Regions from separate parts of the Homo sapiens genome. Here region 2 is linked to region 1. A link means that fine-mapping ties the variant in region 1 to the plasma level of a protein whose gene starts in the linked region. Region 1 holds a variant in brackets. A gene starts in the other region. All regions are shown on their forward strands.

Evidence for each region. A credible set is the group of variants that fine-mapping cannot tell apart. PIP is the chance, under the fine-mapping model, that this variant and not a neighbour inherited with it causes the effect. The UK Biobank Pharma Proteomics Project read protein levels with antibody pairs (Olink). The fine-mapping took linkage between variants from a reference panel, not from the people measured, so its PIPs are less certain.
Region 2: it holds the start of RTN4R, and the variant in region 1 is the best candidate, but not a certain one, in a credible set for the plasma level of the RTN4R protein (UK Biobank, PIP 0.60).

What each region holds. Positions count from the first base shown.
Region 1 is chr15:96,165,270-96,177,725 of GRCh38, forward strand. The region is part of intron 3 of NR2F2-AS1 (NR2F2 antisense RNA 1); the gene reads right to left. All of the region lies in intron 1 of LOC112268156 (a long non-coding RNA gene), which reads left to right. LOC105370997 (a long non-coding RNA gene) reads left to right here and starts at 6,314. Exons shown (of 3, transcript NR_188332.1): 1 at 6,314-6,376; 2 at 8,135-8,232; 3 at 8,483-9,066. The variant C/A (reference allele first, on the strand shown) is at 6,318.
Region 2 is chr22:20,263,514-20,275,843 of GRCh38, forward strand. It overlaps RTN4R (reticulon 4 receptor), which reads right to left and starts at 4,805. Exons shown (of 2, transcript NM_023004.6): 1 at 4,558-4,805. The coding sequence starts at 4,579. RefSeq lists enhancers at 3,649-4,337, 11,151-11,651 and silencers at 4,549-4,708, 4,799-4,958, 5,009-5,068.

The DNA.
Region 1 (12,456 bases):
ACACAGCTCTGTCTCGCTGAACTCTGCCCCACATCCATAACCCTATATCTAGGACATGAGCAGAGCCAAATCTCCAGGAATTATAATAAATAAAAGGAGTTTTTTTTTTTAAAAAAAAGCAAAAAAGAGTAAAGCTACAGTTCCAGGAAATCTGAATGTAAATTACAATGTAAATGAGAGTTTCTAATTATTCCTTTTTTAAGGATAGCACTCCACTTAAATTGTAGATTTAGACGTAGATGTTTTACACACACACACACACACACACACACGTATATGAGTATGGACATTATGGGAGGGGGGTGTATTTCATGCCTTTCTCCTAGAAGGTCAAAGTTCTGTAATATAAGAATTTAAAGATCATAAAATGCCAGTGCAGCAGGGAAGAGTATAGGAGGCATAGTGTATATAAGCAACTAAAAGTGGGGAGAGAAAGAGAACAAGATTCAAATCTGTTTCAACCACTTAGCAGCTATGTGATCTTGGGCAAGACCCTCTTGTTATTTGCTGCCGAGAGCACAGTTGTCAACACTAAATGGCTTAATAGAAGTAAAGCACTGTGTTTAGTATATAGTAGGTACTCAATAAATGACAGAGAGTTTATTATTGCTATCACCATATGGGGGAACTTGGAGTTATTCAGGCTCTGTCTGTTCCACTTCAAAATAAAGGTTTGCGATGTGCAACAGGTGGTCAGTCAATAGTCTGCTGTATCTTCATGATACTTTGCAACTGTTTTGAAAATTTTTTTCCTAAACAGATTCTTTTTAAGGCCTATATTATAATCTCCCTAACCTGCCCTCCCCCTGAGCCCCCTCTCTACACACACACACAATTCACCATTTAATTGCCTTGTTGCTTTAGCTTCCTGGAGACACAGCCACAGAGCTAAATATAGCTCTGTCCTTCCCAACAAGCAATCCTTTAAAGGAGCTAAATTGCCTTGCTTTTTTACTTCTTACCAAAACTTGATCTCAAGCTTTATAAAAGAGAAAAACTAAAGGCCTTCTACCATAGAATGTTTAGCAATCGACATGCTGTCCATTGCTTGAGAGGTTTTGTGTACTGGCACTTAATCCTTGCTTCAGTTACAACCCCTGTAGGGAAATTTGAGTCCTGTACACGGGTTCTTCATTCATTTCTGAGCCAAGATAATTCTAGGATTACCATTTAGAAAATTGGGAGAACAGACTTTTGCACAGTTACCAGGCAGACGGTATTGAAAAAAAAGGGGCATGTAGACTACCTTTTTGGTGACAAGGTTAGGGATAGGTATTGTGGTTAAATCCCATTAGCAAGAACATCACACTCATTAAGTGAATGCCAGAATGTGAACCAAGAAGCCTTCCTCTTCCCCACCCCGCCCCGCCCCTATTTCTTCTCCTCCTAATGGCATGCCCCTTCAATACAGGGGATTCCTTGCCCAGGAAATGCCTCTCCAGCGTAAATCACAGAGTACTCCCATGCCAAGTCGCTCCAAAGCCAGAGCGCACTGCCTAGGACACATGCCATTCTCCAAAAATCTACCAGCATACACGATTCATAAGCCGTCTCTCTCTTATTTCTTGGGTGACCTTTAGGGTTTGGAAAGTATTCCTTTGTGTTAAAGCAAACACAAACTATTCTGCGAGCATAGTTCAAGAATTTAAAGATTCTATTAATCTGATGTCTTAATTGTTATTGAGAAGAGGAAACAGGAGTGCCTTTGTTTCCCGAATGACCACATGCTTCTAAAAAGTGGCCCACAGTGTTGGAGTTTGCATCTCAAGTTGCAGGCAGCTCTGTATGAAGTGGAACTTCAGCGTAACTAATTCCCAGACATTAAGAGGGATAGGGAAAGAACAGAAAGCTGGGCAAACCCGAAGCAGGCTGCAGCAGGGCAAACTGAAGGAGCCCTGCTCCTGGACCTGCCTGCATTCCGAAGACCAGTTTAAAATAATGATTGATAAATGTGGATTTCACTACACAATACATGCGTGTAAGAAACCTGCACCTGTACCCCCTAAATGTGTACAGATAAACACAAAATTTAAAAGAAATCCAGATCAAAGGATTGCTTATAAATACTACCTTGGAACAGCAGTTCATGAGACATTTCACAGTATCCTCTCTCACTTTGGATAGTCACATGAAAAAATACATTTTATTTACTAGGTCAAAATGGGAAAGATACATAAATAAATGTGTATTTCAAAACTAAAGGTGCTAAGCAGGACATAGCAAATGGGGAAACACACACGCACACAATGCTGAACAACAACATGCAATCAAAGGAGAAAGAAAAAAATCTTACACGGATGAAAATATAAAAATCATTGTAATTCAATAATAGCATTCTGTGTGCCTACTATGTACAAGGCACTGAGAGTCCAGGCTTAGAAGAAAGAAGCAAGATTTATTTAGCTCCTGTCTCCCAAGCATTTACCTTCTATTAGGAAAGAATAAATCAAGTATAGAAATATCTACGATACAGGCTGAATACAATAAACGCCCCAAGAGGAAGAGCACATCTAGCTTGGCTGAGAAAGAAGTATATGGAACTAAAAATAGCTCCATGGACAGGGTAGCATTTGAAATGGGCCTCAAAAAAACAGTTAAAAAAATGCAGCTTAAAAAAATGATTGAACAAACATTCTGATTGAAGAAATAAAATGAGCTAAAATAGGGAAGCAGAGAGATATAAAGAATTTAGAGGAGGCCAGGTGTGGTGGCTCACGCCTGTAATCCCAGCACTTTGGGAGGCCGAGGCAGGTGGACCACCTGAGGTCGGGAGTTCGAGACCAGCCTAACCAACATAGAGAAACCCTGTCTCTACCAAATATACAAAATTAGCCAGGCATGGTGGCACATGCCTGTAATCCCAGCTACTTGGGAGGCTGTGGCAGGAGAATTGCTTGAACCTGGGAGGCAGAGTTTGCAATGAGCTGAGCTCACACCACTGCACTCCAGCCTGGGTGACAAAGTGAGACTCCATCTCAAAAAAAAAAAAAAAAGAATTTAGAGGAAAATAAGCAATATTCTGTATTGAGCATAGGATATTTAGGAGTTTAGTGGAAGATAAACAAAAAGACATTGTGGGTGACTTGAAAAAAGAGTAGTTTACCCTGGATTGAGGAGAAAACTAGTTACTGACAGTTTTTGAGCCCTGAAATAATGTGATCAGAGATGATTATTATGAAGAATACAGTAGTATGCAAAGCTATGTAGGATTATATTTTGGAGCAGGGACCCTGGTTTAAGGAGGAGCCACTCACTCATTCCTTCATTCAACAAAAATTAATTGAATACTTACCGTGTGCCAATCCACAGTCCAATTTAATCTATCTGGGAGGCAAAGCTCATCGTTTATGAACTATACATTTTAAAAGCAGAATCTATAGGACTTGAGAACTTACAGAAGAAAGTGGGAATGTGAGGCGGACTCCAAGTTTTGAGGCCAAAAACAATGGCAGAATGGGTTGGGGTGGGTTAGGTACAGAAATAGAAAAGTCAGGACGGGAAATGGTTGGAAGGTGGAGACAGAGCTGGAGTGGGTGCAGGTGTTGATTTGTACTTCACGCTCACTCTGAACTCCCCTGCAGAGTACAGCCAGCAGCTGGAAGAGATTGACGGGAGATGGCAGAGGAAAGAGGAAAAGAGAAGTCAGAGCTTAAAGAATGCCCGTATCAAAAAAAGAAAAGCCTTAGGGAGACAGAGGAAAAGACAGCGTGAAGGGAGAAGTTGATGTTTTTTGAGTGTTCTAGAACGGGGGTCCCCAACCCCAGCCTGCGGAACCGTACCAATCTGTGGCCTGTTAGGAACCAGGCCCCAGAAGGAGGTGAGCAGTGGGCGAGGGAGCATCACTTCGGATCATGCTTCCTGTCAGATCAGCAGTGGCAGTAGATTCTCATAGGAGCTGACCCCCATTGTAAGCTGCTCACGCCAGGGATCTAGGTTAGGTGCTCCTTATGAGAATCTAATGCCTGATGATCTGAGGTGGAATAGTGTCATCCCAAAATGATCCCCACAACCCTGTCCATGGAAAAATCATCTTCCACAAAACTGGTTCCCGGTGCAAAAAGGTTGGGGACCACTGTTCTAGAAGATAGCAAGGGTTAAACAGTGAGCAATTTAAATTTTTAAACTATCGCTGATAAAAGTGTAAAAGTCCAAAAAAAAATCTATCTTGCCAAGTTCAAAGTGTTAGGAATTGATCTAGGAGGTCCCACTTCCGCAGACATAATACGGCAGTCTCCCCTTGCGCTTGAGGGATACCCTCGAAGACCCTGAGTGGATTCCTGAAACCGAAGACAGCACCAAGCCCTAAACATACTATGCACACATTTCTCTTTCCCTCTTCGCAGTTTCATGGATACTATATTCATTCTTATTGTAGATCTCAGCAACCTCAGGATACTTTTTCTTTTCCTTATTAAGTCCAGAACTTTCACCTTTTCATTTAGAGGAAGCACTTTGCGGCTTCCCTTTGGCATCTCCGAATTGCCAGCATCACTATACTTGCACTTTGGGGCCATTACTATGTAAAATAAGAATTACTTGAACACAAGCACTGTGACATTGTGACAGTCAATATGACAACAGAGATGGCTCCTAAGTGACTACGGGCAGGGGTGGGCATACAGCATGGATCCGCTGGACAATGGGGACAATTCACAGCCCAGGCGAGACAGAGCAGGATGGCAGAAGATTTCATCTATTCAGAACAGTGTGAAATTTAAAACTTAGGAATTGTTTATTTCTGGAATTTTCTACTGAATATTTTTAGACTGTGATTGACCACGGGTAGCTGAAACCATGCAAAGCAAAACTGCGGATACGGGGGACTGCTGTACTAGGAGTCGACCAAAATTTATAAAGCATTTTTTTTTCTTTCCCCCTTCCTCATAGGAGGAGGAAGTACCAAATTATGGTAGTCTTTATGGAGAAATGCTGCATAAATAACTGCCAACAGCAAACAATGTATTATCCCTATGGTTCAATCATTTCTTGGAGGTTAAAAGATCACACGTGAAGGCCGGGCACAGTGGCTCATGCCTGCAATCCCAGCACTTTGGGAGGCCGAGGTGGGTGGGTCGCCTGAGGTCAGGAGTTCGAGACCAGCCTGGCCAACATGGCGAACCTCGTCTCTACAAAAAATACAAAAATTAGCTGGGTGTGGTGGCAGGCGCCTGTAATCCCAGGTACTTGGGGGGCGGTGAGGCAGGAGAATCTCTTGAACCTGGGAGGCAGAGGTTGCAGTGAGCAGAGATTGTGCCATTGCACTCCAGCCTGGGCAACAAGAGCAAGACTCCATCTAAAAAAAAAAGAAAAAGAAAAAAAAAAGATCATACATGCATCTTCCCTACCATTTCTAGATTTGTATTAATAAATAAGCCAAGTCGGTGAATTCTCTCTCTCTCTGTCTCTCTCTCAACTACTATTGCTTTAATCTTCCTGAAGTAAAAGTTTTTAAAAGAGAGAAGGAAGGAAGGAAGGAAGGAAGGAAGGAAGGAAGGAAGGAAGGAAGGAAGGAAGGAAAGAGAGAGAGAGAGAGAGAGAGAGAGAAAGAAAGAGAAAGAAAGAAAGAGAAAGAAAGTTGGATTGTTTGATAGGAACATACCACCCTTGAGTCTTCCCCTCATGAAACATGGATGCAGAGTTTTGGCCGGAATTAAAATTGCTAAACTGTGTTTGAGGTTGGCAGAGGAAGTGGTATGGAATTTACCAAGACAGGCTGGGAGTTGAAAAAAATTATAATCCAGGTGCCTCACCTTTTCCTCCACTGGTTGCTTTTCCCCCTATGCCCTGACGCCTGGGAGCTTATTTACCGAGTCAATTAACAAAAGATAACCTCCCATTGTGCAACCATCAATAAATCAATCGTGTTAATACTATCTTGGAATGTCCCCGACTATTGACTTTCATATTGTTTACATTAGCCACTTGAGAAAGCCAGAACCCTTGAGTCGGCTTGTTTGGGCGTTAATGGATTCTGGAGTAGCCATTACTACATATAAGTCTCTTTACAAAATATTGAAGTTTCTCTGAGGTTCACCTGCTTTCTGAACACTGGCGGTACACTCTCCTCCCTCCCCACACGATCCTGCAGCACCGAGTTTGATGAATACTTAGGAAGGCAAACAATCATGATCAGTAATGGAACAGTCACTTAGGGTACACCTACTTCTTTGTGAGTTGAATAATCTATTTCCACCCACCCCAGCCCCACACTGTCAACCACCATCAACAATCCGGGGAATCAAGTTAATCTTCAATTAGGTGAAAGAATTTCAGGAACGAGTGCAGCTCAAGTTACCAAGTAACTTACTGTTGTGAAA[C/A]GATTCATACTGCAAGCCGCCTAAATGCAGGGCTTTTGATGATATTCCCCGCCAACAAGGTAAGAAAAATCTTTCCAAGCAGTGACAATCTCTACATAGGGAACCTCCAAAACTTCTCAAGCTATCTTGAAAATTAATGCAACAGAACAAAATCTTTCTATATTTTCTCCATACATATTATAAAAAATAAGGTTGAATATCATAATCATAATTATAAAGCTGGGGTTTAGTGGGGTTTTTTGTTGTCATTAGCATTTCCTTCTTAATGGCATCAGAAATACTTAGAGAACAGGTTTTCCCTCAGAAGTCACAACTGCTCTGCTTCCAGGCCAAGGTAGTTTGCTAAGGCGCTCTATGCAGAGGGATTAAAAAGGAAGGTTGGGGGTAGCGAGGTGGGACACCAGTCCAGGGACTACAGAAGGTTCAGATTTCAGTGCTGGCTGCAGACCTGGGCAAAGTTCACTGCTCCCTTTTCACGACATGCTACATACTTTTCAAGTTCCCACTTGCTTCTTAGAGAGGAAAAAATGTGGCCTCCGAGTTCAGGTTGCTAAGGACAAGCTGAGCCAATTTAACCATGCATTCCTTTTCTAAAAGATAGGCTGGGTTGTTGTTGTTTTTTCACTGTAAATACCAGAAAGTCTTGATCCTCCCTACTCTAAACAAATACTTTTGCTACAACTTTGAAGTCATCTATCTTCCACGGTGGGAAACCAAGGATTGCATTCAGTAGCCTTTTCCTGCCTGAGTTTAGACAAAATTGAATAGTATTCTACTTTGTAGCACATCTTCTTACCAGACACCAGGCTTCGTTTTTCCTCTTGATAATGATGGGTATTTAAAATGCATATGACTATTGGATAATAAAACTCCCACTGTTCTAAGGCTTTCTTTTTGTCTTTCTTTTTTCTTTTCTTTTTTCTTTTTTTTCGCTTTGACTTCATGATATATATGTCTACTTAGGGTGTTTTGAAGAGAGTGAAGGAAACAGACAGGACTTTGAAAGGAAAAACAGACATCTAATTGGCTGTCTCTTGCCGACCCTCCAGTGACCCTGCACTGAATACCTCTAATGGACGTGTGTGATCTTGGAGCCTCTACCGCAATAAACGAGTTTTAGACTTTCAACTTGTTTTTGCAGCAGAATTCTTTATTCTCCTTAAAATTGATTTTTTAAAAAACGAGTGAGCAAGGCATTAGCATAGGTATTTTACACAAAAGGGTGAAATGGTTTTCTAATTTTATAGATTTAATATTTTTAAAAAGAATTTGGCTTCATTATGAATTTAGTTCATGTTAGTGTGTCATTTTACATACTCTAAAAAGTGGTTTTTTTAATATGGAAAGCAAATATTTGCCTTCAAAGCAGTAGTTTCTAAATCCAAAAAGTTCAGAAAGTCAGTTAGGAGGCAATAATCTTAACTCCAAAAATTAATAACTCTCATGACATTGTTTATGTGAAACCTTGGAACTTCCTGTGCTGTAAACCATCTTTGAGTCAAGCTAGAAAATAGTAAGAGTCAACTCAAATCCTTTATGCTTCAAAAAACACATGAGACTATTGAACAGGCTTTATTAAGTGATGTGGGGGTTAACGGTGAAAGCCCCCATTTCTATTTTTGTCAAAAGACTAGGAGCCTCATCCCCATCAGAGAGCTTTGCATTTCCCCTGCCACCTTAACTTCCTGGGAACTGCCAGGGTACACTACCTCCTTTCTTTTCTTCTTTTCTCCCTTTTCACTATCTAGCATTTCTTCCCTTTTATTGTTCTTTCTTCACGTCCATGTTGACCTTTTTTTTTTTAACTTATCATCTAGGATGAGTCAAGGCCTGCCTTGATGTTGCTCTGTGTCCTACCAGCAATTCTTCCTGGAATCGTCTGTTCACATGGATGTCTAAATGTTTAAGCACCCATGTAAATACTATGGTATCACTTTCTCATCAGTAGAGCTTTTGTGAGTTACAGAAAGGCTGAGACCAATGCCACAATTTGAGATTCCAATATGTGAAATAATAAAGACATCCCCTAACAGGACTTTTTAATAAATTAGGCTTTAACATTTGATATTTATAATGTTTTCTGAGAGTGTTCAATATAACAGAGAGTAGTATTCCAGTTATTATATATATTTATTTGGAAATAATGCCAAAACTCTACATTGTAGGCATGAAGGTGGGGCTTGCCTCCATCTGGCTCTCCTGCCACTTTCAACAACACACCCCACATCCGATCCTGCTTAGAGTCGAAGATGAATCTGGCATAATACAAACAGCACTGGACTGGAAGCATGAAGTTTCTCTTATCTGTGCCTTGGTTTCCTCATGTGGAAAATGAAAATGTTGACATAAATAATCACACAGGTCTCTGTTAGTACCATTTTGTGATTTTATATCGTGCTTACCACACCTAGAAACAGGGGCCATCATTCCAGCCAGCTAACAGAGAAAAAGACGATACATAATCAGGCTTGGGAAAATAAATTTCAGAGACCAAGTAAACAAAGACAACAATCTAGTATAAGGGTTATAACTGGGGGATGAGGGGTTGCAAATGGAGATCTGCCACAGTCAACTCTATTTGGATTCCCCTGTTCTCAACAGGCAACAGCAATCATAATGGGCTTGGAGCACCAGTCCCACAACATCACAGGACATCCAGACATAATTGCATTAATAATGTTGTGCATAATCGCACAACTCTCTGGTTATTCAGCATCGTCCAATATGTGAATAAAGCTCTGAGGAAAAATTAATGCTTGCTTAATGCTTTGACACATTTCCCTTTACAAAGCAAAGATCCCTACTCCTCTCACTTTCTCACATGGAGAAAAAATTAAAGTAGCATTACAACTAGTCAGCATCCACATGAGGCCTTATAATTAATCAGATCTACTGAGAGTTAGGTCCAAGATCCAGCGTAAGGAGAGATCAAGCAGAAACAAAATACACAGCCATTGCTCTGTATCTGTAGGAGATTGGTTCCAGAACCCCCTTCAATACCAAAATCTGCAGATGCTCAAGTGCCTTATATAAGATGGTATAGTATTTGCATATAACCTACGCATACCCTCCTGTATACTTTAAATCATCTCTAGATTACTTACAATACCTAATATAATGTGAGTGCTACGTAAATGGTTATACTGCATTTTTATTTGTATTACTTTTATTGTTGTATTATTACTTCTTTTTTTTTTTTACAATTATTTTTAATCTGTGGTTGCTCAAAGCTGCAGATGTGGAACCCAGGAATATGGAGGCCCAACTGTACTTTTACCTTATTATGTAGGCTATGCTAATATTAATGACTAGAATGTTATATTATTTCTTCTCAGATTTCAACAACAGTTGAGCCTCAGGGTCAAAGTATCCGGCACTAAATTGAAGAGAATGCTGATGATTAGGACAGGAAAGCAACTTAAGCATCTATTAGTCCAGCCTACTATGAAAAGTAGGAATTCCTTCAACAAAATTCTCGCACATGCCTATCCAACTTCCCAATGACTAAAGCAATAACAACAGTAATGATAATAATGAACACATATTTCATACTTACTGTGTGCCAGACACTGTCCTAAGTATATTGAGTAGTACTGACTGTGAATCAGCACTGTTCCTAGAACTTCATAGACACTCAACTTATTGAATCTTGAAAATGCCTCTAGGAGGTAGGATCTATTATTGCTCTTATTTTATAGATGAATCAATGGAAACAGAAAAGAGTTCACTAACTTGCCAGAGGTCACACAGATAGACTGAGAAGAGCTGGACAATTGCACTAAACAGACTAGCCCTGTAGCCTGTCCTGCTAATTCTATGCTACCAATAGGGGCAAGGGACAGAGACAAAGTAGGGAATTAGAGTCCATTTCAACACTACTTTAATTACTCAGTTTTCTGAGCAGAAGCTGCCTCCTTTAGTCTTCATATTGCCCACTAGTTCTAAACAGAATAATTATTCCTCCTTCCATTTGACAGTGCTTTTTTATCAAAGATTGACAAACTATGGCTCGTAGGCCAAATCTGGCCCACCATCTGTTTTTATGTGGGCCATGAGCTAAGAATGGATTTCAAGTTTTCAAATGGTTGGAAAAAATATCAAAAGAAGAATAATATTTTGTGACACATGAAAATCACATGACATTTAAATCTCAGTGTCCATAAATGAAGTCTTATTGGAACACAATCACACTTCACTTACATATTGTCTGTGGCTGCTTTTACTTTACTATAAGTCGGAATTAAGTACTTGAAAAAAGACCACATGGCCCAGTAAAGCCTAAAATATTTACTATCTGGCCCATTGCAGAGAATGTTTGCTGATTCTTGCCTTAAATAGTAGAAGGTAGTTCTCCTGTCCTTTCCTAAAAGTGCCCTTTTTTATAGTAAAATACCTCAGGTCCCCCCAACCACCACCATCTCATTATCCCGGAAACTCTTCTCTGGCATTCTTTGGTGCATATTCTCTCTCTCTAAAAATTCTCCTCAGTGGTATATGGCTACAATGGAATACTACTCAACAATAAAAAGGAACAAACTACAGTGGATACACACAACAACATAATGAATCTCCAAACCACTATTCTGAGTGAAAAAGCCCTGCACATCTTTTTCTCACTGCGTGATTGTATCTACAGGAAATCCTAAAATGGGTAAAACTAATCTAGGGTGAAAAATTATATATCAGAATAATGGTTGTCTTTGGGAAAATGGGGCAAGGATTGGTGGGATGGGCATGAGAGAACAATCTGGGATGCTAGAAACATCCCAGATCTTGAGAGTTGTTTGGGTTACACAGTTGTGTGTATTTGCCAAAATCCACCAAAATGTACATAGTTTGTACATTATACTGTATCTACCTCAAAAACAAACCTTGTAAATAAATATTGAATTCTAGTTAATGATCTGCATACTGAAAGGTTTAGTGGTAACAGTATCAAGGCCTGCAACTCATTTGAAATGCATCAGAAAATCAAGACGGTTGGATGATTGGGTGGAGGGAGGGACAGATGGCAAGAGATATGAAAAAGCAAGAGAAGTAAAGTGTTCATTGTCGAAAGTGGTTGATGGATACCTGGATGTTCACTATCTAATTCTTTCACCTCCTCTGTTTAAGTCTTGTGACAACAAAATTTCCTTCTAAAATAACATTTTCAAAGTAAAATTTTTATAATAAATGGGGCAGAAAGGATAAAAGTAATGTCTGGCATGAAACAAACTACTCTAAAAGTTGCACAAAGCGACATCACTATTTCCCTTCCTTTGGCCATTTTTATGTTAGCATTTATTTTCCTTTGATGTATCTGATTGGACCCTGAAGTATCCTACCTTCAAGGTATCCAAAAAGGTATCTTGGGTATCACCGTTAGGACTAGTGATGAGAATTTATTCTATGATGGAATCTAATTCCATGGCAAGTGGCCAACTTTCATTTCTTTGTTTAAATTTTATGATAAGAGATGCATACAGTGAAAGACATAGAAACATCCCCAGTCAGATGCCTCCGCCAAATCCGCTTGTGGAAAACTGTAAATTCCACAAGTGAGTTTACGCTCTTGTCTCATGAATGTGTAGAAAGAATAATGCATTTGTTTGTTTGATTATAGCTGAATTTCTGCCTTTGTAACCCCACCAGTAGGTGGTCATGTATTTCTCATACTAAGGTTCACTACCACTTCACAAACAATATGCTCAACACTGTTGCAAGCATCAGATGAGAGTGTGTGCCTGACAAAAATTTGAAAAAGTCCTCAAAATATGCAGCCTAATCTCTGGATTAACTGTTTCTTTAAAGGGCCTCTGCAGTGTATAATCTGCAGACTTGTTCTGTTGCTTTTATGCAATGCCAATATTATTAGTAGCAATAATACAATCACGCTTCAACTATTTGGAGGTCAATTAGCTGGAAAGTTCTGCCTTCTGAATGGAAGCTAAGAAACCAGTAAGTAAGCAAGAAAAATCCTGTGGGCAGTCAAAATAGCTGCAAAAGCTTCAGGGTGCCAAGCTCATATATTTGCTCATGGAAGACTCTCTAAAGCCAATGCTCAAAATCCTATGACACTTATTTATGCAAAATTCTAACAAGCCTGGGTTTCCAGCTCATAACCCTAACAGAGGTTGCATATAGGCAGGCATGGTGA
Region 2 (12,330 bases), not on the chromosome of region 1:
ACAGCCAGCTAAGAATGCCAGGGTGCTGACTGGAGAGCCAAGAGGCACCCGGGGGCCCAGGGCAGGCTGCTCTGAGTGAGGCTGGGTCAGCACCCGACACCTCACTCCCAGATCAGCCCAGCTCCATGTGCCAGGGCCCTGAATGGGGCTTTCCACCTGCCAGGCCTGTGTAGACCTACATGGGGACCCTGGCCTGTGCCCACTCAGCCCCTCCTAAGGCCACTCTCGAGGTGTGCCAACTGCCCTGCCTTTCTTCTCCACCTCCTGGTCTGGCTGCTGTGGGTTGCCTCCATCGGACAGGACACAGCTGCGGAACAGTGTCAGCATCACCCCATGCCCCGCTGCCCTGCTGCCCCGCAGAAGAGGCCCCGCAGGCCATAGCAGGCAAGACCAGAGGCTGTATGAAAGAGGCAGGGGAGAGGTGGCCCCAAGGCACCCACTGCACAAATGGCTGCCCAGACTCTACTCACTCACCATCACCTACCCGGCCAGCCCACGGTTGTCAAAGCCTCAGTGGGCTAGGAGGGGCAGGATCTGGCCCTGCTGCCGAGTCCCCTGAAATCAGCCCAAGCATCGGGGGAGAGGCACGTGACCAGACCCCAGACCTGGTGGGTGCCAGCTGAGGACATGGTGGGGTGGGTGTGCAGAGCTGCATCTCCCAGTGTCCAGCTCCACGGCTGCAGGCAGTGCAGGAGGCCGGTGCAGGTTTGGATAAATAAATGATGGTGCATTCTCAGGAAGGGATTCCACACACACCAGAAAACCCATGATGCACAAGAATAGTTCCCGATGTGCAAAATGTTTAAAATACAGCGATAAAAGAAGAAACGGCAGCACAGAACACCTGGTGTGGGGGAGCCCAGCTGGGCCCCAGGGACAGTGCAGGGAGATTTGTGGGGTGGGGCAGCATGCCCGCCGCTCCGATCGGGCTTCCCTGGGCCACTCTGTGACCTCCTATCCTTTAAAGCATTTAATCCTAGAGATGCCCGATGCCAAGGATCACACCCCTTGATTTGCCTGGCTCAGAAGAGAATCTGACAGGCTAGGAACGAACGAGTGAATGAATGAACAAATGAGAAAGTGAATGGATGGTTGGGGCAAATGCAGCATCTGGGATCTGGCTTTGAGGAGGGTGCCTGTGACCTTGGCCTGGGTGCAGCCAGACCGCAGAGCAGGGACACTGAGGGGTGCAGAGAGGGACCCGAGAGGGCATCTGCACAGCTGCAGAGGCAGCAGGCGGCCAAGCCAGCTCCCGCAGACCCTGAGGCCCAGGCCCTGGGTGGCTGCAGAGGGTCAGGCAGACCAGCCTGGGGGTCAGAGGTCAGGCTCACCAGAATGGGGGCGGGACGGCATGAACCTCATTGATCAGATAGTAGCCAAGTGTCAGGAGCCCTCACTAACCCTGTGCCAGGGCCGGGCGGGGCGCCTGGCTCACACACGCATTTGTTCATTTCCAGGTCATCCTGAAACTCCCCGTGTGCTTCCTGCTCTTGACCCCTTTCCCAGGTGCACAGACCAAGGCTCCCGGTGAGAGGTTCCGGGCCACAGGCCCAGGACAGCAGGAGGGCTCCTCTGCCTCCCGCCCGTCCTGTCCTCACCAGCTGGACCCTCCTGGTGTTGCACCGGCTGCACAGGGCCGTCCGTGCCACAAAGCATGAATTCAAGGCTGGGGCAGGGACGAGGAGAGGGCAATGCTACAAGGCTGCACTGTTCCTGGGCAGAGGGAGGGGGAGAGCACGGTCCCACACACCCTGGCCCTCACAGCCTGCCTGTCACTCACAGCAACAGCAAACAAACCCTGGCCCCTCCACAGGCTGTGGGCCAGTTCCCAGCCTCCCAGGACAGCAGGACCTTCCCCCACCTTCCAGGGCCCCAGCCCCTGTAGGGGTGTCCTCCATGGACCCTCCACAAGCCCTCTGGCTTTCAGAGACGTGCTGGGCCAGGCCCTCCCTCAGCCTCTCCCCTGCTTCTCACTCCATGCAAACCTACGTTTCTGCCAGTCCCAGCAGAAGGACCCTGGCACGGGGAAACTGAGGCTCAGGGGTTCCACAGACCCCCAGGTGAGGAACAGGGGGAGGGCAGGGAGGGAGTGAAGGTACTATGGGAGGGTCTCCCAAGCTGGGCAGCATCCCTGCCCTGTCCCCTCTCCACTCACCTGTGGCCCGAGTTGCCTGACTAGGGGCTTTTATTGTCCCTTCTGCACATGGATGGGGTGAGGGGCCAGCTGGCAGTGCAAAGGTCCCAGGAGGACTCTGCTGAGTGGGGGTGTGGGGAGGTGTTGTGGGCATTCTGAGGCAGAAGCACCAGAGTCAGAACTCCACAGGGAAAGCCGGGCCAATTCCGCCCAGCCTCAGCCTGGAAGTGCCCCGATAATCCCTGACCACTGGCCCATGGTGCAGGTGAGGAAGACTGAGGCAGAGAGGCGACCTGTCACACCCAAGGTCACACCGCCAGCAGGTGGCTGAGCCAGGACCCAAATCCAGGTCACGGTTCTGCCACGGCAGGCCCTGCACGTGCCCCTCTGCCAGGTGGCGTCTAGGTGCTGATGGCCACCCATTCCCACCCCCGGCATGGGAGCTCACTTCCTCCTCACCTCAGTAGAGAAGAACAGGGAACAGTACCCCCTTTATAGATGGGAAGACTGAGGCTTAGAAAAAGAGACTGGCCAGCCCCACTGCTTCAGCTGCCCCTCTGCTAGTATGTTTCACCCTCACACAACCTACAAGGATAACCTGCTGGTCCCCACTCTATAGATGAGCCTCTGGTGGTGGCCAGGGGAGCAGGAGGTGTGGCCTGCCAATCCAAGCCCCAGCCCAGGGCCCTTGCCACAGTGCTAGTGGGCCACCCTTGCCCATCATGCAGCATGGCATCCATCTGCTCAGCACCCTACACAACACCGGAGGTAGGGGAGCCCACCACAGAACCCCTCACCAAGAAGGTCCTCACCATGGAGAAACTGAGGCACTGGAGGCGGGGCCTCTGCAGTCACGCTGGGTCACGTGCTCCAGTCAGCCAAGCTGCAGCGGCCACCAAGGGTGCCCAGGGTCTGGCCTGTTGGTCACAGTGTTGACCTCATGGCCTGAAATGGGTCTTCCCTGCCCAGACAGGTTCCAGCCCACCATCATCTATCTGCCTCAGCCCTGGTGGGTAGGGAGTGGCTGGGAGACCCTGCCCCTCACACCCTGGGCTTTGCGGTATTCAACGAGCCCCCAACACACATTCCAGGGCCTCTGCTCCAGATTAGGCCACAGCCTGTCTAGGCACACAAGGGGCACCCACACCCTGGAGGCAAAGAGACATGCCTATGTGCCCGCAGGCACACATGATCACGCGCACAGACACACGTGCAGATGCATACCAAGTTACACACACGCACACAAGCCCGAGGCGGGGACCCCCAGGACACGGAGGCAGGCAGGCAGAGGTGGGGCCCAGGATGTCTTGCCCCTGTCTGTGGGCCTGGCCTCCCCACTCAACAGACGAGCATGTGGGTGCGGGAGTGGTTATTGCGAAAGGGGCCCCAGCATGTGCCACCCGTGGAGACCACAGCAGGCATGCCGCGTGCATGCATGTGTGGCCGTGGGTGTGCAGGCGGGGGCGAGGACACAGATATGCACCCTCAGAGTCCGTGTGTGCACCCAGTGTTTGTGCATGTGCACACTGGGGCGGCGTTGGCTTGCATGTGCACCAGAGGTGTGCAAGTGTGCAGTCCGTGTAGACAAGTGCACGTGCAAGGAAACGTGTGTGCAGCCTGCGGCACCATGGACATCAGCAGGGCAGCCTGGGTGGGCACCTGGGGAGCACCCTCCAGGCGGGGCATGCCCAACTCACATGGAGCCCACCCTCCCTTGCCCGCACCGCGGGACCTCACAGCCGGTGGGGCGGGGGAGTCCCACGAGGGCTGCTAGGGAGGGGTTGCTGATTGCCCCACCGCCCCTGATTCCCCCAGCCAAGCCTCTCAATGTCCCTCGGGCTGCAGATGGCGGGCGTTGCTGCCTCCTCTCACCGCCCGCCCTGGAGGCAGCGCTGGGACAACCCTGTCCCCCACGCCCTCTACTGCCGCCAACGCCCCCATTCATCCCACTGTGGACTGACCTCGGAGAAACGGGAGGTTCTGAGCCCAGACCGTGAGGCTGGGGTGGAGGCGGCCCGACACCCCCACCCACCCTCGGTACCCACGTTTCTGCAAAAACCCGCTCGTTAACCCCTTGGTGGCCGGGGCGCTCCGAGGCCGGGCCCCGCCCTTCCAGCCCACGGCCCCCGCCCTCGACTTGGCCCAGCATCGGGGACCCTCGGACCGCCACCCTCGGCCCTGCCGAAGCCGTCAACTTTCCCGGGAAGCGGCAACTTTTCCTGCCGCCTCCGGCTCCGCCCTCCCGGGGCCGGGGCGCCAGCGGCCCCAGCCTGGCGCGGCACTGCGGTGGCTTTCCCTGCCGCCCGGCTACGCTTCCCTCGCCTCGGCAGCCCGGGACGGGCCCTGCGGCTCCGGGGAGGGGGCGAGCCGCCCCCCTCCGCGCCCCGCCGCCGGCCGGGCTCGGGTGCAGCGCGGACACTCACCTCCAGCGGACGCCCTCTTCATCGTAGGGGTTGGGCGGGGCGCGTCGGGGACTGAAAGTCGTTTCGGGGCGGGCGCCCGTCTCCCCGCGGCCGGGTCCGCATCCAGGCGCCGCCGCTACGGCCCGGCCCCGGCCCGGCCGCGGGACGAGGCTCGGCGCGCTCCGCTCCGCCCGGCTCTGGCTGGGCTCGGGCCGCGGGTGCGCAGGGCGCGCAGGGCGCACAGGGCGAGGGCGGCGGCGGCGCGGGGGTTGGGGCGTGGGCGGCGCGGCGGGCCGGGGCGCGCAGGCCGGGCCGCAGGAGGCGCTCAGCCCGCCCGGTGCACCGGCGCCGCGCGGTCCCAGACAAAGGCGGCGCATTCCTGAAGAGGCGGCGGCCCCTGCAGGCGGCGGAGGGGATGGCGGCCCGGGCCGGAGCCGGCCGGGGACGCGGGCCCGAGGGTGTGGCGGCCTAGGCTGGCCCGGTCCCCAAGCGGGCAAGGGCTTTGTCCCGAGGCCTAGGAATGGCCTCTGCCTGACCCACTCCCTTCCTGGCCTCACGAAACCCATGAATCCCCCGCCCCCTGCACAGAAGCCCCTTGCTGCAGCACGATCGCCCCCATTTTTCAGTAAGAAACAGGCTCAGGGCTTAAGAGAGTTCTGGGGGCCCTCCTGGGCCTTTGTGGCCCTCTCTGCACCATCCTAGAGAAGGGACCTAGGCCTGATGTTACCCGTAACCCTGCAGGGGTCCCCCACCTCTTCCCTTCTGCGGAATGGGGGCTCCAAACCCAGAAGACGCTCTCCGAGGTCACCTGCTTAGTATCCCCCCACTCTACCAAGCCAGCCCCCCACGGGCGGTGTGAGGCATGGGGCCAGAGAATCCAGTGACGCCCCTGCACACACCACACAGGGGTGCAGGTGTCCCTTCTCAATCTTCTGCTCGGGGCACCTACCGGGCCTCACCGATGAGCTCCTAAGTGCATCCCGGGGTCTTCAGACAACTGCCAGGCTGCCCCTGCACCTGGAGAAGTGCTGGGAGTCAGCTCAGCCGGGCTGGGTCCTCCCCAGGCCCACCCTGCATGAGAGGACCATGCAGATGAGGGTCTTGCAGGCCCACCTGGTGTCAGTCTGTAGGACCCTGACTCAAGGACGGAGTGGGCCAGCCTGATGCCTTGATGGCCCCCCTCAGAGCCCAGGTCCACTGATATGAAGCAGAGAGACCTGGTGACTGGGCACCCCTGTGCCCTCTGCCTGCCCCTGGCCATGGAGGTGGCCCTGAGGGAGATGAGCAGGGCGCAGGGCCGGTGACCTGCCTGCCTTGTGCAGAGGAAGTGAGGACCTCCCAGAGCCCTGGTGCTCCCATCTGATCCCAGTGGCAGGCAGCTTCGCAGGGTGGAGCCATGCTGGGTGGGCCCTCTGCCTGGTGTGGAGGCTGCACTGCCCACATGCCTCTGGCTGCCGCTCTGTGGCCCTCATCACTTTGGCCTGCTTTATCCCTATCACCCTTGTCCCAGCCTAGGCTTATGAGGGCATTGTGGAGTGCATGCCATTCCCAGCCACACAGAAGGTGAGGTGGGGCCCAGACACCCCCAGCCACTCTGTCCCCTGGCCTCCTGAAGGGGTGGGCTGTGCACACACTGCCACCTCCCCAGAGGGTGCTGGCTGCCGAGTGCCACCAGCTCAGCCCCTGAGGTGGCTCAACAGGTCCTCCCAGAGCCACACCAAGACGTCATCACCCATTGCACAGATAGGGAACCTCAGGCGAAGCTCACAGAGCCAGTGGGAGGCTGAGGCCTGACCCCCAGACAAGCATTCTTCTCCAGGGTCCCTGCACACAGCAGCCCCCAGGCTAGGAACTGAGCTCTCTCCACAGGGATGTATCAGACCCTAGATGAGTCACGTGGCACTGACCATCAGTCTGAGGACAGCGCTGGGGTGGACCAGGCTCCAGTCTCGGGCTGCTCTGTGCTTGCAGAAAGGCCTTGAGAGGACACTTGCTTGCTTACTCCGCAGGCGTCTCTTCAATTACCAGTGACCCAGAGCAGCCCACTATAGCTGAAGATTGTGACCCCACACCCTATCTCATAGGTTTAAAGCCCCTCCCACCCCTCCTGCCGCAGCCGAAGTGACCATTCTGGGGCATGGGATGGGCATGGGGTGAAATGGGGAGCAGGGGTGGCCCTGGAGGCTTCTGGCACCAGCACCCTCTCCAGCCACCAACCTGGCTGTTCCCGGTTGCTCTGCGCTGGGACCTGGGCCTCCACCTCCCCACAGGTCTCTGCATGGGAGCAGGGCTGAGGCCTGCAGAGGGAGCGCTGGGGGATGGGCTGGTTTCCTGTGTCCGCCACCTCGGTCAGCACGTTGGCCAGCACCCTCCCCACTGGAAGCTGGGCCCACTCCTGGGTGCTAGCTGGGATGGTTAGGCGTCGGCCAGCGCTGATAGGGAGTTATGGGGGTGCAGAGGCAGAGTTGAGCAGGGCTAGGCAGCCGGTGGGTCTGCTACCAGCAAGGCACAGCCCACTTCTCAGGCTGCGCATGTGGGAGGGTTTGGTAAGCCACATTTTTCAGGGTGTAGCCGGGTGAGGGGTAGCATGGGGAGTGGTGTACTCTTTGGGCAGGCGACCACGGAGCCATCACCCCCCAGGGCCCAACGGGCAAGAAGGGGAGCAGCTGACGGCTGGTGAGGGGCTAGCAGGGAGGGCTTGACAAGGGCTGGAGCCCCTGGTCAAGGGGCACAACCAGTTCTATCGGGTCACCTTGTGGGAGGAGCCAGGGACCCTGTGGGCAGAGCCTGGCCGTCTGCTGCCCGGAGTCTACACCAGTCAGTTCCTAGGAAGCCCCATCAGGGGTGCTGGGAGGACAGGCCATCTGTGCCCAGCTGATGCAAGCTCCCAGGCTTTCTGGACACGTGGCCCTGGGGATCAGGAGTGAGCTGGAGACTGCAGACAGCTGTGCCCTCAGGGCCACACAGACCTGTCACACCCTGCCTGGACTGGGTCAGCAGGGCCACACGGGCATCTGCCCGAATCGTTCCCCACCTCACACCCACCATGTGGGGCACATTCTTTGCCAGCTTCCCCAGCCCACCACCCCTCTACAGTGAGGCCAGGGGCTGTCTCACCTCCCACCCACACCCACACCCAAAATGTGGGGCTCAGCCTCCACGACCAGCATGCCGGTCATGAGGGCCCTGCCCAGCTGTGTGACCTCAGCCCAGTCCCTTGGCCTCGCTGAGCTTGCACAGCATGTGGACGAGGCAGACGCTAATGCCTCAGGTCCTGGTCAGCTGGTCACCATCCCTCCTTTGTTCACCTCGCCTGTCCCCTGAGAGGATCATGCAGGGTTTTCACTCAAAACTCCAGGACTGCCCATAGAAGCCAGCTTGAGATGAGGGGAACTTTCGCGGTGGCCTGTCTTGGGCTGACAGGGACACGGTTCAGCCTCCTTGGAAGGTCACTGCTTCCCAGGGCTTGGGAAGACTCATCTCCTGCCTGGAGAGATAGGCGTGCCATGGCTTTCCTTGGCATGCCTGTGCGGTACTCACGGACATCCAGGCCCTCAGTGTCTCCTGGGGAGGGATGGGGCAGCAAGGAAACTGGGTCTTTGCTCCACACATTCTGGGCCACTCCAGGCCAATGCAAGGAGAGACCAAGAAGGAAGCTAGAAGGTCATGTGGCAAGCACATGCCTGCTGCCCAAGTGTGTCAATGTGACTGACCTTCCCTGCACTCTGAGTGGGCGGCTGGGGATGTGGTCCCAGTGCCAGGGAGCTGGGGGGTGTTGGCCTGCCATCTGCTCTCACCATGGAGGGCGGCTGCATGCCCAAGGCCTAAGAGGACTCTGTGCCAGGCCTGCTGAGTGAGTCATCCCATTCAATCCTACAGTGTAGACACTACTACCACTACCCATTTTCCAGACCAGAGAAGGAGGTCTGGGGAGCTTAGGTGGACCCACATCTTGGCAGCCCCTTTCTGCCCTCTCTTTGTCCACAGCCTCCGCCTCCTCCAGAAGCCTCTCACCATCCCCCATCCCCGGGGCTGCAGAGGGTGTCCTGGCCTTCCCCTATCAGCTCTGCACCCCTGAGGACTCCCATCCCTAGGAGTCCCTCTGCCCAACTTTGGTGCATGTTAAGCCATAATTAATCTGCTTCCTCATCTCTTATTCATCAAAGCCACAGCAGCAGCAAAGGGGGCTGGCACAAGGAAGGGACCGACAACCAAACCCTGGCAGTGGCCCCAAGAATCCCACTGGGCCTGCCCATCTCCAAATGCCTCTGACCCTTCACTAGCGAGGGCCTCCTCCCACAGAATGGCATCCTGGATTGTGCCACACTAGGCAGGCCCCCTGACGGACCATGCGCACCTCCCACCACCTGGAGGCTGCTGGGGACCGTCAATGGGACGTATGCATTGCACAGTGATGGCCCTTACCTCTGCGTCCCCCAGCCCTGGACTGGATCCCTTGTGGCCCATCTCCAGGATGGGAGCCTGAACGGAGATGAAAGGACACTCGGCCAAGTGGGACATGCCAGGCTGGCACCTGGACCCTGGTCCGCCACTCTTCCTGGTGCCTAGAGGAAGGGGTGAGTCCCCAGGGCTCCTGGACCTTGAGATGAGCCTCGGGCCACTTGTGTTTGCCAGCAGATGGGCTCAGGGTCTTCTCTCAGTGGGCACAACCGAGTTGGTGGCCTCTCTCTGGGGAGGCCGGCTGGTGGGGGCTGGGGAGTAGGCGGCTTCTGGTCCCTGAAGGCCCAAATCTGGTGCAGGGGCAGAGCTCCGGAAGGCGGGGGTCCCTGGGCTGTGCCCAAGGCATCCGCTGTGGCTTCACGCCCCTCCCCCGCCCCTGCAGGGAGTGTGGATCCTTCTAGAGCCACCCACCTGGCAGTGACAGCTAAATTGGGAGCCGCTGTTCACACCAGGAGCCCAGCGGGCAGTCAAAACCGGGTCGGGGGGGAGGGGCACCCGCTGAAAACACCCACAAGCTCCCAGTGGGGCAGGGAAGGCAGGGAAGGCATGGTGATAGCTGTCAGCAGGAGTGGGTGGGGAGTGGAAGGCAGGGTAGACCGCCAAACCCATCTTGGGGCCATAGTGAGATGGCCCCTGGGATGCTTCGGCTGGCCAGTGCCCAGCCTTGCTCTTGTAGGAGCTCCCTGGGCCCCTGGGTTCCCCACTCTGGGCCACCACAATCCATGCAGCATGCAGGTTTGTTCCGTTTCCCAGATGGAGAGGCTGAGGGCTTACCACAGGGTTCCGTCAAGGACGCAAAAGGGCCAGCCTGACTCTGAGCTCAGTAGCCCCACCCTCCACAGCCTCCCTTGCCGCCTTCATCTGCTCACTTCCTCAGTCACTCAACAAACACTCTGGGAGGCAGACTGTAACACCCTGCATACCTCTGCTGGACCCCCATTCCACATATCCCCACTGGTTACAGGTGGGGAAACTGAGTGCCTGGGAGGCGGGCCTTGGCCTGAGTCCCCCAGTCAGTGATTCCAGGATAAAGGGCATAGCCATGCCATTTGGTCACTTGAAGCCCACAGGGGTGACTGGGAAGAGCCCACCTAGCACCCCACATTCTGCTAGGGTGACTCAGACCAAGTCCTTGGGGCTCTGCCCCCCAGCCAGTGGCTCTGCCTCTGAGAGCCATGGGACAGGGAGCTGTGCAGGGTGGGGCCAGCAGAGCCTGTGCCCCTGCCTGAGCTAGTCGTGATGGGGCCTGCCCTGACCCCTTCCCAGGCTCATGGGTGCGGAGCAGGGCGGGGCCTTACAGTGAGATGGGGGCCTCTGTGGGCAGTCCTGGAGGCCAGGCCCTGGGGCTGGGACTCACTGGCACAGGGCCTAAGTTTCCTCCTGTGTCCGCAGGCCTTATTGCCTGCAAGGGAGGTGGAGGGGCACAGGGGCGGTGCCCAGCGTGAGGAGGGGGCTCTGAGGAGGCTGCAGCAGCCGGCAGGCCTCTGAGACTGGGATATTTTTAGCCAGGATTCCTGCTGACGGTCCAGGCTGGCCGGGGTTTGCTGCCAGCCTTAGAGGCGCTTCTCCTAGTCTGTGTCCGGACATCTGGGGTCTGCTGGCCCCACCCACCCTCTGCTCAATGCCCCCGCCCCACTGGCCCATCCAGCCAGGCGAGGGGCTCCCAGGAGGCCGGCCATGGTGGGAGCAGAGCCTGGGGCCCTCGGGGTGTGGCTGAGAAGAGGCCACATGGGCTGCTGGGGGCTGCCTGTGTCCTGGGTCTCCAGCTCCCAGCTGCCACTCTTAGCCGACCCGCTTAAGGGGCAGGTTTCTGGAGGCTCCGGTTCATGCCCAGGCTCGAGTTCTGAACTGAGCATTCTCAGTCCGCTGCCTGCTGCCTGCTGGAACGGATGGCTCAGCAGAGCGGCCACAGCTTGGCTCCCTCCTGGGCACTCCTGCCTGCCCTTGCCGCTTAGGTGCTCTGGTCATCAGGCCTCTCTGGCTGGCTCTACCAAGGTGCATGTGTGCAGGGCCTGGGCTTGCAGGGCCTTGTGGCTCAGCCAGGACCACCTCCCTTCCCATGGGCAAGTGAGGACATCCAGAAAGAGGGTCCTCTGCCTCGGCCACTCCCTTGGGACACCCCTCCACCCCAAGGCCTCTCGTGGAAACAGAGTCCAGCACTCAGCGTCATGCCTATGCACTCCACCGGCAGGACTGGCTGAGTCCCGAGGAGCCAGGCCCTGGGGCACAGGCCAATCGGATGGAACCCAGATGAAAGCCCAGTGCTGGGACCCACGGCCCATTCTCTGGCCTGGCTGAAGCCTGATGGCTTGTTCCTTGAATGAATCAGGAGGCCCATCCAGAGCAATTGTGAAGTTCACATGAAAGAATGAACGTACGGAGAGAGATGGGCCATGTCGCATCCTGAAACGCCTTATATTCTAAGACCATGATAATTAACACAGACCCTGGACAGTCACACGATGGGAAAGAGTCCAGAAAGAGGCTCAAATGCAAATATGAGAAGAGGCAGGTCAAATCCAAGAGGAGAGATGGAATATTCAACAAATAATCCCACATATACAATCAACACTTGGCCTTAAGACAACGGAATTGACATATGGAGGAAACATTTGGATTCCTACCTCACTCCTTGACGCTAAAACAAGTTCCAAGTGGAACTAAGATTTAAAAAGTAAAAATGAAACCATAAAACTCCTAGAAGAAAGCATGGATGGCAAAAAACCAATCTTGAGTCACTCTAAGAATTATACAAAACCCAGAAGCCATGAAGTAAAAGATGGGTATATTCAACCTCGTGAAAATAAAAGGCAGATGCATGGAGAGAAAAAAACCACCATAAAATGATAACCAACAAAGGGTAAAAACATCGGCAACTCAGTTCACAAAGGGCCGTTTTTGGTTCTCAATACAAATCAGTAAGAAAAAGAGCAACAGCCCAAGAGAAAAATGGGCAAAGGCATGAAAGGAACCTCCCATCACCCCCTGCTGACCTTCACTCAGAGTGAGAAACATGCGGATCTAAGCTGCAGTGAGATGCTGCCCCTCACCCACAGGGATGGCAGCCGCATCAGGCTGGGGGTTCCCTAGGGGGGCTGCTTAGGGGCTCCCACAGGTCTGGCTGTTGGAGGGCAGGGAGAGGCCTGCGGGTCTGGTGGGGCCGGGGTGAGGCACTCACAGATATGTCTAGTGGGGGTGAGGAGGGGGACCGCCTGCAGGTACAGCTGGGGGTGTCAGGTCGCTGGGGATGGGGTGGAAGGAGAGGATACCCATTCAAAACAGGAAATATATATATTTTAAAGTAAAACAGGCTAAGTGCAGTGACTCACACCT